Homo sapiens: one gene and its partners. The protein of the gene in region 1 purifies or fractionates together with the protein of each later gene. This does not show direct contact. Each region holds a gene or a part of one and is shown in the gene's direction. Other genes may lie near its edges.

The links.
Region 2: the proteins of JAZF1 (region 1) and EREG purify together in Homo sapiens (affinity purification with mass spectrometry; one large-scale study listed by BioGRID and IntAct). This does not show direct contact.
Region 3: the proteins of JAZF1 (region 1) and MSH4 purify together in Homo sapiens (affinity purification with mass spectrometry; one large-scale study listed by BioGRID and IntAct). This does not show direct contact.
Region 4: the proteins of JAZF1 (region 1) and EPC1 purify together in Homo sapiens (affinity purification with mass spectrometry; 2 studies listed by BioGRID and IntAct, with this or other methods). This does not show direct contact.

What each region holds. Positions count from the first base shown.
Region 1 is NC_000007.14:27,890,796-27,894,295, reverse strand, and holds part of JAZF1 (juxtaposed with another zinc finger protein 1), read left to right. Parts: intron 1-3,500. UniProt on the Homo sapiens protein: Acts as a transcriptional corepressor of orphan nuclear receptor NR2C2. Inhibits expression of the gluconeogenesis enzyme PCK2 through inhibition of NR2C2 activity.
Region 2 is NC_000004.12:74,363,783-74,367,944, forward strand, and holds the start of EREG (proepiregulin preproprotein), read left to right. Parts: upstream 1-1,362; 5' UTR 1,363-1,526; coding exon 1,527-1,593; intron 1,594-4,162. UniProt on the Homo sapiens protein: Ligand of the EGF receptor/EGFR and ERBB4. Stimulates EGFR and ERBB4 tyrosine phosphorylation.
Region 3 is NC_000001.11:75,880,382-75,883,881, forward strand, and holds part of MSH4 (mutS protein homolog 4), read left to right. Parts: intron 1-864; coding exon 865-989; intron 990-3,239; coding exon 3,240-3,440; intron 3,441-3,500. UniProt on the Homo sapiens protein: Involved in meiotic recombination. Required for reciprocal recombination and proper segregation of homologous chromosomes at meiosis.
Region 4 is NC_000010.11:32,337,159-32,340,658, reverse strand, and holds part of EPC1 (enhancer of polycomb homolog 1), read left to right. Parts: intron 1-3,500. UniProt on the Homo sapiens protein: Component of the NuA4 histone acetyltransferase (HAT) complex, a multiprotein complex involved in transcriptional activation of select genes principally by acetylation of nucleosomal histones H4 and H2A.

The sequences.
Region 1 (3,500 bases):
TTTGGGAGGCTGAGGCAGGAGGATCACCTGAGGCCAGGATTTCAAGACCAGCCTGGGCGAAATGGCATTTTGAATGCCTCACAAGTGCCAGAAACTGAGCTACTGAGGTGAGCAGAGAGAGGCCCCCTGCCCTGACCTCAGGAGCTTACACCTGTTGGAGGATATTGGCATTCTAGGGGCCAAACAAGATCACTCTTGTCTTCCTCTCCCAAGTGTGGAAATGATTAAAAAGTAAAATAGCAGTCATAGACGAAGAACAAAATATCAACTGTATTATTACATAAAGCTAAACCACAGAATGGAGCTTGGATCTGTAACAATTGGGCTTCCTAGTATGTCTTCCCAGAATTCAATTTATTTCCCAAAGTGCACTTCTCAGCTTACCCCAGGGTGGTAGCTGACCAGAGCGCACTCTGGACCCTGAGCAGAGCGTGCCCAGCCCTTCTTCCCTAGTTCATGCTTCATTAAGTCACTGTTCCTCCTTGGGCAGGAGTGAATAGAGATGGTGGAAGAGGTCCGCATGTTTGTGCTGTCTGAGAAACAGAGAAATAGCTCTCTTCCCCCAGTGGGAGTATAGACCGTCACTAATCAAATCAATACGCAAATAAATATAACCCTGTAATCATGACAAGTGCTATATAGAATTCTGTGATAGGAGGGCATCCGGAGAGAAGTTTGACCCAGTCAGGAAAGGCTTCCTTTGAAAGATAAATAGGAGTCAACTAAGTAAAGAGGAAAGGGGGAGCAATGTCACAAAGGGAACATTCTGCAAAGGCTCCATGGAGGGGGACAGCCTGGCAGGTCCCCATTACTGAAAGGCCAGGTGGCCCGAGTGTAAGATGAGACTGAGGAGGTAGGCGGGGACTAGGGCACTGGGGGTCTTATTCAAAATTTTGGTTGAATCGAAGAGCAAAGAGAACCCACTTGTAACCACACCATCATCTCCTTAGCCATGATTAAAATTATCTTCTCTGACAGTTTACGTATTTCTCTGTCATCCATTTTCCATTGTGCAAAGTGTGTTTCAGAATACTAACTTCACAAAATACTAGTTGGGGAAAAGGGATTTCCTAGTAAGTTTGGGGAGATGATGAGTTAGACAAAGTTAAATGGATTTCTTTAATTCGGGGCTTTAATATGCACTGTTAGTCTCCAAGGGGAGGATTTAGTAAATTTCCCAAACTTAGTTGCTCTGATTAGGGGACCTCTTTCTTTATGGGGCATCTCAGGGGACTCATGGTTGACAGACACCGTGTGTTCAATCAGGATTGAACATTTTGAAGACAGATTAGGTATGGGAGATAAACCAGAGTTGCTGCCTTAACTTCTTTCTTTACAAATGGTGTCACCTTGGGCAAGTCACTAATACCCATTATATAGATTTTTTGTCAAAGTTAAATGTGATAGCACATGTATAACACAGTGCTCAATAAATGTTCATTTCTTTCATCTGGGGTTTTCAACTTTGTATTTTAGGAACAGAATCAAGGTCATGCTTCTAGAGGACAAACCAGTTCATTTGTGTTAGGCATTTGTCCATTTCCTTGAATAGACCACCATGTTTCCCTTATATTTTATTTTGTGAAGATTGACTTTCCAGGATCTTTTTGTAACATTTATGTTGTAAATCTAAGGAATGAAAGAGAGTGTAGTGTAATTCCGCAATCCTCTTTTCTGGGTATTGCTATGATACTTATTCACATATAATATGAATTATGGGAACAGTTTCCCATTGGCTGTGTTTTATACCTGAAGTAATATGGACTGACTCATGTCCAACCCCAGATAACTGTGACTGCCCCAATTAGTGACGGGTGCCTAGGACCCCATGAAAATAAAGACAGTTTAAAAGTGAGAGTTTATTATTTTTCATGTAAGAATGTTTGGAAGAAATGGAATCATTTCCCTTCCTTCAGACATAAAGAAATCTTTCTGACACCTTGCCTATTTTAGCAATTTCCCATTGAGAGAATTAATTTATGTTGTGGTAAAGATGTATCATTTTCAGTCTGTCAAGATTATTGGTAAGTTATTTGCTGCTGTAAGAACATTCCATGTAAACATCAAAAATTAGCAGGGGAAATGGTTTCTTAAACCCCTACCACGTACAATTTTGATTGTGTACATTTTTCAATGTTTGGAATGTTATTTTACCTGTAGTTAGAGAGATCAGCTTATTTTGCCTGACTAATGTGGTTTCAGTCACTTTCATTGCCAGGTTATAAAATTCCACATTTCTACCCCTTAAATTCACTCTTGCAAGTTCTATATTCATGGTGCATTCCCACTTCAGAAGTAATAGTCATCTTGTAGGAACTTCATTTATAAAATGTTCTTTAAGGTATACTTTCTTGACAATACTGAATTAGAGCTCAGCTTTATCCTAAAGTTTCGAGTATTTCTTAGGTATAGTTGGAATCAATGTTTGTTTTGCAATTTTTTTTCTTTTCTGTTTGAAACAGGGTCTTACTGTATCACTCTATCACCTAGGCTGGAGTGCAGTGATGCTATCATAGCTCACTGCAGCCTCAAACTCCTGGGCTCAGCCTCCTGTGTAGCTCACGTCAGCCTCCTGTGTAGCTGGGACTACAGGCACATGCCACAATGCCCACTTAATTTTTTGACTTTTTTTGTAGAGATGAGGTCTTGCTATGTTGCCCAGGCTGGTCTTGAACTCTTGGCCTCAAGCAATCCTCCTGCCTCTGCCTCCCAAAACTCTGTGATTACAGGCAGGGGCCACCATATATGGCCTGTTTTGCCATTTTTACATCCTAGAAGAATCTTTTTCTCTCATTGTTTTCCTTTCCTATCCTTGTCTTTTTTTCTTTTAATATATAGAAAAAGTATTCATTTAAGAAAAGCTTAGAATAGTTTAAATCATAGATCAGCAAACTTTTTCTATAAAGGTCCATATAGTAAATATGCTTTGCAGGCCACAGGGTCTCTGTTTCAGCTACTCAACTTTGCCATTGTAATGTGCAAGCAGCTATAGAACCACCTAAATTAATGGGCATGTTGTGTTTTATTAAAAGTTTTTCTAAAACTTTATGTACAAAAACAGGCCAGAGTTGGCCCATAGGCCACAGTTTTCCAACCCCTGGTTTACATAATAGAGAAATGGAATTGAAAAATAAATGTGATTAAATTATCTGAAAATAAAGTGTTAAGATAATTCATACCCTTCTCCTTTTAAAAGTAGTAACATGGGCCAGGCACGGTCGCTCACGCCTGTAATCCCAGCACTTTGGGAGGCAGAGGCAGGCGAATCACTTGAGGTCAGGAGTTCGAGATGAGCCTGGCCAACATGGTGAAACCCCATCTCTACCAAAAATATAAAGATTTGCCAAGTGTGGTGGCTCACGCCTGTAATCCCAGCTACTTGGGAGGTTGAGGCAGGAGAATTGCTTGAACCTGGGAGGTGGAGGTTGCGGTGAGCCGAGATTGCACCACTGCACTACAGCCTGGGTGACAGAGCAAGACTTCATCTCAAAAAAAAAAAA
Region 2 (4,162 bases), on another chromosome or scaffold:
CCCGGCCGAAGTATTTGTTTCTAACAAGAGCATTCTGGACATTAAAGGGCCTTAGAGTATGAGAGAAAAAAGCCAGAAAAAAAAAAGGAATAGTAATAATAATTTTTTAAAAAGTAGAAATAAAAAGGTAAGGAGTTAACATCCATTAGATTCCATTTTCTATTCAAATATGTATATTTACATACAGTACTGCTGAATTGACTCACAGTTCTTAGGTCCTATAGAGGAGTGCAGTGAAAAGGAAGACAATTTACACAGTACAGAGCTGAACATAGGACTTACAAACAAAAAAAAAGTCAAGGAATACAAAGTAGCTTTCCCAGGTGTAAAGTACCGGGTCTAGAATTCTATGAGGCTAGGGAGAAGATAAACGACAAAAGCTATAAGAGATCAGAATGAAAAGAGATCCACAAGCCTAAGAAGCCCAGGCCCTTGAGGAGAACCATGAATTTGAGCAGGATTTCACTAATTCCTTTAAAAAGTAGCCATTGCCTCAAAGTACGACTCCATCAGCATAGGCAGGAAAGTGGGAGTGAGGAAAGGCTTAGAGTTTTCCAGCCTGGCTGGGGTCAGACAATTTGCCTGGGGAAATAGTGGGAGCTGAGGTTGAAAAGACCGATTGGCTTCACGTTTGTGGCAGGCCTTGTCCAAAAAGCAATAGGAAGTCGTTGAAAGGTTTTGTGCAGGGGAGCGACAGGATTAAGGCACTACTTAGTAGGAAGTCATATCAAAAGCAGCAACCTGACAAATGGCAAATACGACAGAAGGAAAAAAAATAACAGGAATTTTCTTCACAATGACTCGACTTTGAGGTAATAAATGCCTGAGCCACATTGGAAGCAGGGGTCTCAGAAGGAAGGCGCAGATGGGAAAGGCTTTTCTGGGCGGTGGCGTTTCAATGCAAGGAGGGCGCTTGAATCACTGACAGACTTCAAGTTAAGGGAGTTTTCGTGGCTGAGGTTAGTAAGTCACACGCACAGCTCTCCAAAGGCATGTATGGGGAACGCCAGCCTTGGCTAAAAGACTGATTCAAGTTATGTCCGTCACCCTGAGCAACCAAAACCACCCACTACAGGGCAGGTGACCCCACAAAGCAAACCAAGCCATCTGGTCCACGCTCCCCACCTCCCGGAGGGAGATGGAAAAGTTTCGGGAGTAGTCCCCGGCCAATCGGAAAGACATTTTTTCATTCCTCAACCACTACTCTCAGGTGCTCCAGGGAGGGAGGATGACTTCCTGACGGTCCTCCTGCCGCTCCTCCCTCGGGCCAATTATGAAACTCTGGGCACTCTTGACCTCACCCCGTTAGGGCCCGGGAGGGGCTCCCTAGTATAAAGTTCGCAGCACCAGACAGTTGAGCTCACTTGCCTGATATTTCCAGTGTCAGAGGGACACAGCCAACGTGGGGTCCCTTCTAGGCTGACAGCCGCTCTCCAGCCACTGCCGCGAGCCCGTCTGCTCCCGCCCTGCCCGTGCACTCTCCGCAGCCGCCCTCCGCCAAGCCCCAGCGCCCGCTCCCATCGCCGATGACCGCGGGGAGGAGGATGGAGATGCTCTGTGCCGGCAGGGTCCCTGCGCTGCTGCTCTGCCTGGGTAAGTTCTCCCCCTCTGGCTTCCGGCCGCCCCAAAGAGGAGACAAATAAGGAAGGCTCCTGTGCATTTGTCATTCGACAAGTACGGAGTTGTCTCCAGGTTCAAGTGTGCTCTATTTAAAATTACGTCTTGTTTTGTGAGTCTGTCTTCCCCTATGGTGGGACTGGGGTGGGGGGGACTGGGGATCGATGTTAAAATGCTTTTTATTGGTGAATTAATTATTGGCATATATGTTATGCATGGATTGAAATATCTCCTTATTAAACAAAATAAAAAGTTGTTGAAAAAGCTTTTTTTTTTTTTTTGAAAAGTTGCCAGTCCTAGAAATCTAAAGGCCTGGAACGCACTGTTAACATTTCATGTCTTGTTCCTTTTTGTTGGAGAGTGGGGAATAGAAACTAGCGTAAGAAATTTTTTGGAGGGGGGAAAAAGCTTTTCTCCTCTGTCTTGCGCTCAGTTTTCTAAAACCTAGCCTGGTTTAGCTTTCCCGGAGGAGCTGGTATGCGCCAGTGCCAGTTGGCTGAGCTCCAGACACAAGAGAAATAAAACACTGGTCGAGGGTATCTGGAGCAGAAGGGCCCTGGGCAGGTCCTGGCGCTCCCCACCGCCCTTCGCCCCTACACCTGCTGCTTGCGTTTTTCCCTGCAGCCTCCCAAGCAGCCTCTGGAGCAAGCGTTCTGCACTTGCTGCTAATTGCACTCCATAGCCTGTGATCGCTGAGGGTATTTAAATGCCAGTCTTCCTATTTGAGATGATTTAGTTCAAGGGGAAAAATTTTCTAAATAGCCTTTCTGTTAAAAAAAAATTACTTCTTTCCAATTCCTTAAACTTCAGTTTAAGGAATTTGAAAGAGTTTGAAGTCGTATATGAATATCTTAATAAAAAAATAAAAGTTACCACCAGTCTCATATTCTCCCTGGAGTTGGAATGAGGCTGATTCCCCAGACACTCTAACTCTACCTGTGAAGGATGTGACTGTTAAATTATTATTTTGGCACACCTTATCTCAGGGGTTGAGAGACCTAATGAAATGCATACTATGCATAATTGAAACTTACAAGTCTAAGTCCAGGAACACAAGTGGAAACTAGATATGTGGTTTCTGCCAAAACTGAGCTAAGAAAGACTTGCTAGAAGATTCTCAGTAAACAATGTGGCTTTGCTGTCTTTGTTTTGAAAAGAATTAAATTAGAAAGGTGACAGTCTTCCTAGAGTTAGAAATTAACCTCGAGGTCAGAATAACTTAGCACTTATTATTTTCCCCACATGTAAGGTTGCATCTGAACAATGCACATGTCTGTTCTGGGTGTTTCATTGAATATTCTAATTTGAGACAGCCAGAGCCTGTGAATAACCTGGTTACTACCCACTAGTGTGTGTGTTGTGTGTGTGTTTGTTGTCATGAAAGTGCTTACCTCCTTCATTGCATTACTTAATTATAGTTCATCTATTTCGTCAGCTGCCAAGCCCATTTCCAAATGAGTTAGGTCAGTTTCTGTTTTCCCAGTTTGTTTGGATATTTCTCTGCCACTAGGAAAGTTCCTGTTTCAAGTTCTGTATTATATCTCTAAACTCTATTCAGTTATGCAGAGCCCATAGCCTTATTTTGGCAAGACCACCTGTTATTTCTGAAATTGCCTTCTTTCCCCCAAACAAAATATTTCCTAAAAATACTTTTCCCAAATCTTGTCCTTCCCCCAGCAAAAAAGAGCGAGACATTTATTTTAAATTTTAGCATACATGTTATAACTGCTTTATGTAGTTATGACTAGGGAATAAAGTTCCAGCCTCCACCCTTAACACATACAGATTTAAATTGCTATGCACAATCATTTGGTTACTTTTAAATTTTACACTTGTTTAATATTGAGGCTCTTGTTTTATAAATTGGGGAACTGTGACCCAAGTTCACATAGAAAAATAGTGACAAAGTGAGAGTCCACACTTGGGCTTGCTAGCATTTTTGGCCTACTGAACATTAAGTAGAAGAGTTGAAATACCGGATAACATTTTTTTAAATAATCTATAATTTTAGAGCAGAATTTTGTCTTTTTTATCTTGTGATTTTTCTAAAGAGAGGAGGATAAATTTTTATGTTGAATTCTGCAGTTATGTTCAGGGGCTTTCTATTTAACATCAAACATTTTTATTCATGCCTACATGGGTTTTTGAATATGTTCCTGAATGACATCTCCAAGATAATTTAGTCGTACTTCATCAATGAGAGAGAATTAAGCAGAAGAAATATTCTTTTTTGAAAATATGAGGAGCATAAATCTCAATGAGACAATAGGCTTGTCTTTGATCATTTCTGTTGACTCTGAGAGTTTATGAGTTACCTGAGTCTTGGCACAACCTGAGATGACAAATCTTGTCAGAAAACGTGATGACAGGCCTTTCCTGTCTGGATTTTGACCAGGTACCCTCACCACCTTCTGCACAGTCTTGCCATGTGAGCAGCTTGGGTAATTGGGGTGTCTGATTCAGCACTAAGACCCAAATCCAGGAGTTGAGAAGAAAACTAACAGTTACTAAATGCCTACTGTGTGGCAGCCATGTTGTGTATTAG
Region 3 (3,500 bases), on another chromosome or scaffold:
CTACCATGATGTAGAACTTGGCACATCAGGGGCTTACCTGGGCTTCGTTCAGTTTATTATTTTCCTATGGTCTGTAAGTCCTCAGCTTCTTATACCTTGATATTAATAATTCAATAGCAATATCACAATAGTGTCAGTTCTTTTGCTGGTCATGAAATAGTAGCAATACAGCCAGAAAGAAGAAGTAGAAGATTTAGAACACTTATTAGGCTGAAGTAATAAAGAGAAAGGTTGGGCTTTCAAGACAATTTCAAGGCATGTACCACCAACATTTTAATATATAGTAAGTTTTGGGTACATATTTATCTTTGCAAGAGAAAAACTTTTTGCACTATATCACAGTATAACTCTGCCTTATAAAAACTTAAATAATTATATTATTCAGATATTGTGTCTGTGTGCATGTGTGTGAGTGAGAGAACAAGAACGAGAGAGAAAGAAAAAATGGATGAGAGAGAAAATGCATATAGTTTTTGTGTTGAACTTAACATTTGCAAATTCACAAAGTGATTAGCAAATGGGATCTTTCCAAGTATAATGAGGGCTTGATTTGACCTATATCAAATATTCTTAATAATAAAAACTTATTTTATTAATATCATATAAAAGCAGTTATTTCAAAAATGTTATGTTAATACACAAGAAGATAGATTCTTTGCCACTAAGTAGCTGTGATCTTGAGCAAAAACTTCAATTTCCTCATCTCTAAAATGAGACAGATGAACAATAGGCTTTATCTATAGTGTATAACTCAGATGTGAATATTATTTTACTTCAGGCAATGAATTTAATATTATTTTACGATTACAATGTATGTCCCTTTTGAAAAAACATTATTACATGTCTTACCAAACGTGTTTTCAGGATAGTGTGCAAACTGCTTAGTGAGATTTATGAACATATTCATTGCTTATATAAACTATCTGACACTGTGTCAATGCTGGATATGCTACTGTCATTTGCTCATGCCTGCACTCTTTCTGACTATGGTAAGTTGCTTTCTTTGGAATAAACATATTGCATAGTTAAATTTGTATTCGATTCAAACAATTTGATATAATAGTTATGACATTTAAAATTTTTAACTTGAAATAGAGTCTCTTGCCTCTGGTCCTAGACTAAGACACAAAATAAAGAAAGTGAGATTACCCTTAAAATTTTTTTTGAAGTAAAAATTATTCTCTCAGAAATTGGCAAACCAAAAAGAAAAAATTGCAAGAAACTAAAGATTCCCCAAATAAGAAAGACTGTAAGAGCTGTCTCCTTGGTAAAAATGACAGTGATCTAAATTTATAAAGTTCAAATCTGAATACTTATTAGAAGCAGCGTGATAAACGTTAATAGAGAGAAATGCATCTCCAGAGTGAGCATTTTAATCCACTAGCTCTTTAGATGTGAACATACCAAAATTAGGAATTATGTAATTTATTTTTATATCCCAAGTCTATAAAAAGGCCATGAATATAAATGTTAAGTAATTTTCTCATGTTAAATGAATACTTCGAGTTAGTGCTTTGACATTTCTTATCTAACTTACCAGTAATAACCATACTCCAGTATGCAAATTTACTGGACTAGTATGTGATAATTATGGTTGAATAATTGTAGACTTCATTACATTAAAAACATTGAAATTTCTAATGTAAATCAGCAGTAAAATTTCTAAAATGTTATGTTAATTTACTTTTATGGGATGTATCTTAAGATTTTTTCATATTTCTTATGGAAATATTAACTTTTTCTATTGGTATTTTATAGGCCAAAACTTTTCAAACTTTTATATCTCCTTTGCATCAAAACTCTACTTTAGGGGTCAGATATTCCAATGGTAGTTTTGTTTTTAAACTATTAAGAGATTTAGTCTTGCTTCATTTTAGTTTGAGAAGGATCATTCTGAAACTCCATATCTATAAATAATGAATTTTTGAAAATACTTAAAATTTTTTTTCTAACCTCACTTTTATGATGAATGTTTTCAAGTTTATGCATTTTAGATAAAGGTATGGAACATTTTGGTTTTCACATATGCTTTCACCCTCTTCCTCCTCCCCCCACTTCAGGTGGTATCCATAGAGACCTGATCCTTATTTATTTCTATAGATTAGCAGATTATTTGTGTTGATCTTCTCTATTCTCATTCTCTGAAATTTCCTTTTATACAAAATTTCTCCATGGGCTTAGAAAGAATTATTTTTATATTTGATTTTATTCTATAATCATACCTCAACTTATGAGCTAGGTGTTTGAAACCAGCCTGGGCAACATAGCTAGACCTCATTTCTAAAAAAAAAAAAAAAAAAAAAAAAAATCGGTGAGAAGTGGTGGCAGGTGCCTGTACTCCCAGCTTCTTGAAAGGCTGAGGCAGGCAGGAGGATGGCTTGAGCCCAGGAGTTTGAGGCTGCAATAAGCTATGATTTTGCCACCGTATTCCAGCCTGGGTGATAGACCAAGACCCTGTCTCTAATAAATACATAAATAAATGCTAAGCGTACCAAATTTGAAATAATATTAAAGTAGGGAAGTAGTGTTTAAGGTAGAGTAAGTAAATATGCAACTCTGTATTACCAGTAACCAACTATGATTTTTAAAGTACAATCAATGAGTACTTGGTTCTTTTTTATTTTTATTTTTATTTTTTTTTGAGACAGAGACTCACTTTGTCAGCCAGGCTGGAGTGCAGTGGCACAATCTCAGCTCACTGCAGTCTTCACCTCCCAGGCTCAAGAGATCCTCCTATCTCAACCCCACAAGTAGCTGGGACTACAGGCATGAGCCATTACACCTGGCTAATTTTTTTTTTTTTTTTGTAGAGATAGGGTTTGACCATGTTGCCTAGGCTGGTCTTGAACTCCTGAGCTCAAGCAATCAAGCAATCTGCCCTCCTCCGCCTCCCAAATGCTGGGATTACCAGCATGAGCCATCACGCCTGGTCTGCTTGGTTCTTTTTAATCTACAAAAAGCTGAAAATTTTATAAACTATTTTGGAGCTCAGGACAGTGGTAAAGAACTAAATTCTAGAGTTCTCTAGAAGTGAATAAAAGTTGTGATAGTGATTAGAGTGTGTCCATTATAATTTAGAAGAATTTGGGTGGGGATTTGGGATAATATAGTACCTTAATGTTATTATTCCAAATTGACCAGTGTGAAAATCACTAAGATATAGACAATACATACACACTACAAAATCTTTAGACACAAATATATTAATCTTTAAAAACCATTCTATTTTTTTTCTTAAGTTCGACCAGAATTTACTGATACTTTAGCAATCAAACAGGGATGGCATCCTATTCTTGAAAAAATATCTGCGGAAAAACCTATTGCCAACAATACCTATGTTACAGAAGGGAGTAATTTTTTGATCATAACTGGACCAAACATGAGTGGAAAATCCACATATTTAAAACAGATTGCTCTTTGTCAGATTATGGCCCAGATTGGTAAGTTATGGCTTTATTTATAATGACCAGTTTTACACTCTTTTCAGAATGCTTTGTGCC
Region 4 (3,500 bases), on another chromosome or scaffold:
AAATATTCACCATGTTGCCTGGGCTGTTCTCAAACTCTTGGGCTCAAGTGATCCACCCACCTTGGTCTCCCAAAGTGCTGAGATTATAGGCGAGAACCACTGCACCTGGCCCTAGAATTGCTTTTAATTTATTGATGCTAACTGTTGCCTTCAACACATTTATAAACTGTAGAAAATCTTTCTTGATTAGGTGTATTAAATCCTGTAATAATAGGTAGTGATTTTGAGTTCTTACAGTATTTTAAATATAGTGGACACTCAACTTTGCACCTTTAAATATATGAAGTGAATTCCATCTACCAACCCTGCTGTAATAGGTATATGAAAAACAAAAGCAAACTTGCTGTACTTATTACATCTACTATAATATGTTATCTGAGGTGTAGCTTTGATCAATGCAGATACAATCAATTTTTTAAAAGATAAAGCCCTCCCTCAAGTATTTGTTGTAATGGAGGTTATCTTTAAAGTTTTGGTTCAGTTTTTGGATATGTGTTGTGATAATCACTTGCTGAATTGCAAAGCAGATTATTTAAGCAAATCGTTTTGGTTGAATTTCCCTCAGTATAGCAAGTACTGACTGAAGAAATTGGATGTGACCTTAGAGTGAATCTAGGGGCAAACATGACCTGAGGTTTAAAATGTCCTGTGAATGATTTAATATAGGTTCTAATCTTTTTATATATTGGGATGAACTATTTTGATAATGTAGCAATTGTATATCCTCTGAGCATCCAAATAGCAATTGTGTATCCTAAGGAAACTTTCCCTACCTTGATTTTGTATCCATTGACAAGTCACTTAACGTCACTGAAAGAACTTTAGTCTCTGCATTTCTTAAGTCTTCTGAGCTACCTTACAAAATAGCTCTGAGGAGTGAATAAGGCAGTGTATGAAAAATCATGTACAGATGAATTTCATTATTACCAAACACTAATAGAATTTTTAGAACGGCCTTGCTTTTTGTTCTCAGAAGATACTTAACATTATATTTTGTATTTGGGATTGTGTGACATAAAAGTGTTAGATGTATTTTGTGTCCTTAGAGAGTTGTATGATATGATTGTGAAAAACTATGTATTTTAACTTAGGTTGTTATTATTATTATTACTATTGAGAGAGAGTTCACTCTGTCACCCAGGCTGGAGTGCAGTGGCATGATCTCGGCTCATTGCCACCTCCACCTCCCAGATTCAAGCGATTCTCGTGCCTCAGCCTCCTGAGTAGCTGGGGCTACAGGTGTGTGCCACCATGCCCAGCTAATTTAGGTAATTATTAATAGGAAAAAGCATCAAACTCGGAGTTACTAGATGTAAGGCCTTACTCTAGCCTCTAGCTCTGCTTCCACATGCCCCAGGTTTTCTTGACTGTAAGATGCAGTAGGCCTATGGTAGTTTCCTGTTGTAATGAGAATATTCTGTTGCCATTATATTTAAATCTGTTTCCAAAAGAATTTTATGTGTTTAGAGAATAGTCATTAAATCTTGAGTTAATCTCATTTGCATATTATGTAGACATAATTTGCATGGAAGTAAAGGTGCATGGATAGTTGGTTCCAGTTTAAGAAGGGTCAAGTTCTAAAAGCCAGTCTCTAAAGGATTTAAAGATGTAATTGGATGCAGTAGTCAGAAAATAACTTTTATTGTCATGAGAATTTGAGATTAGAGCCAGAATTTATTATTATTTTTATTATTTTATTTATTTATTTATTTATTTTTTTTGAGACAAGGTCTCCCTCTGTTGCCCAGGCTGGAGTGTAGTGGTGTGATCTCGGCTCATTGCAGCCTCAGCCTCCTGGGCTCCAGGCTCCTCCCACCTCAGCCTCCTGAGTAGCTGAAACTCCAGGAGGATGCCACCATATGTTCTTATGTGGCAGTGGAACAAGATACTACAGAATTTTAGTTAGAAGGAGAAGGATAATTTTCTTTGGGTAGGTGGTTAGGAAACATGTGGCCTGAAACTTGAGTGGTGGTAATGAGCCGTGGGAAGATCTGCATGAGGAATAATCCAGAGAGACCTACAGGTGCACAGAGCCTGAGCTGAAACAGGAGGCCATTGTACTCAGAGCAGAGTGAGCAGGGGGTTGTAGATTAGGAGATGAGGACACATACGTACTCACGATCCAGATCAGGAAGGGATTGTTAGGCTACCATGAGAAGTTTTGACTGTGTTGAAATGAAGTAAGCTATTAGCGAGTTTAAGGGAGTGACATGATCTGATTTAATGGTTTTTCAAGATTATTCTGGCTACCATGTGGAGAATGAGTCATACTGGGCAAGAGTGATGATGGTGGCTTTAAGTAGGGTTGGTGCTAGTGGAAATGAAGAGAAATGGATGGATTTGAGATATATTTTGAGGAGCCAGAACCAACAGAACTTGCTGGTGGATTTGAATGTACTAGATGGAGAGAGAGAATCCGAGGATGAACCTCCAAGTTGAGCAGCTGGATAGATGAGTGGGCCTCTTACAGGGAAGGGACAGTTAGGGGTGGGGGATGTAGAAGGGATGGACTTGTTCAGTTTGAAATGTGCCTCTTTCGTCCTGATTGGATATGTGAGAATATGCACATTAGAGCAGTTTGTGCTAGAAGTGTATAATTTGGAAGTCATGAGTTGGTCCTATAAATCTGAGAGTCTTCAGCTTATGAATCGCATGGAATGCTGTGCTCTGGGACTCAGAGGAGGAGCTACTGAAAAGATTTTCTTCATTTTTAGAATAAAAGCATCTCAAGAAGGAAGGACATTGGTTAACTATGTCCACTGAGAAGATGAAAGTATGGGAAAGTAATTTAATTAGATATGTGCCATTGGCATGTTTTGGTGGAGTGGTGAGAAGGAAAGCCCAGCTGGAGTAGAAGAAATAATAGAAGATGAAAAAGGGGACATAGCAAGTATAGTCAACTCTTTGGAATAGCTCTGCTATGAAAGAGAGAAAAAAACAGGGCTGGAGTAGCTGGAGGAGGCTCCCAGATCAGCAAATGATTTCTTTTAAAAATTAGTTACAAAGTTCCATCAGGCACAAATGAAGGAAACAAATGAAGCTGAGCCCTAGATTGACCCACTTCACTGCCTTGAGAGTTTTCAGATTGCAGCACAGGGATGGGAAATTCCAAACAGATGTGGCAGCTCCTTCAGTTGAAGAAACAGAATTCAGAGTGTGGGGAGGCCTAAGTGACTTTGGAGCAGAGTACCAGGGCTGCACAGAAAAAGAGCTCCAGATATTCACAGGGTGTCCCTTCGAGTGTCTAGCTGAAAACTGATCTGATCCTGTCCATGAGGAACTTCCAAGTCTAGGGAAAAGCAAGAGGAAAGAAAGAACAGTTTGGGAAGCTCATAGGGCTGAGACTGTGCTACACATTCCCACTAACCAGAATGGAAAGGCCTCAATACACAGCGTATCAAGTAGAACCCTCAGAAGGGTTATTGTCTCAGTAGTGAGGCCGAGGCCAGATTAGTTCTAAAGACTGTTCTGGACTTGCCCTAACAAAGATTGAGTACTAG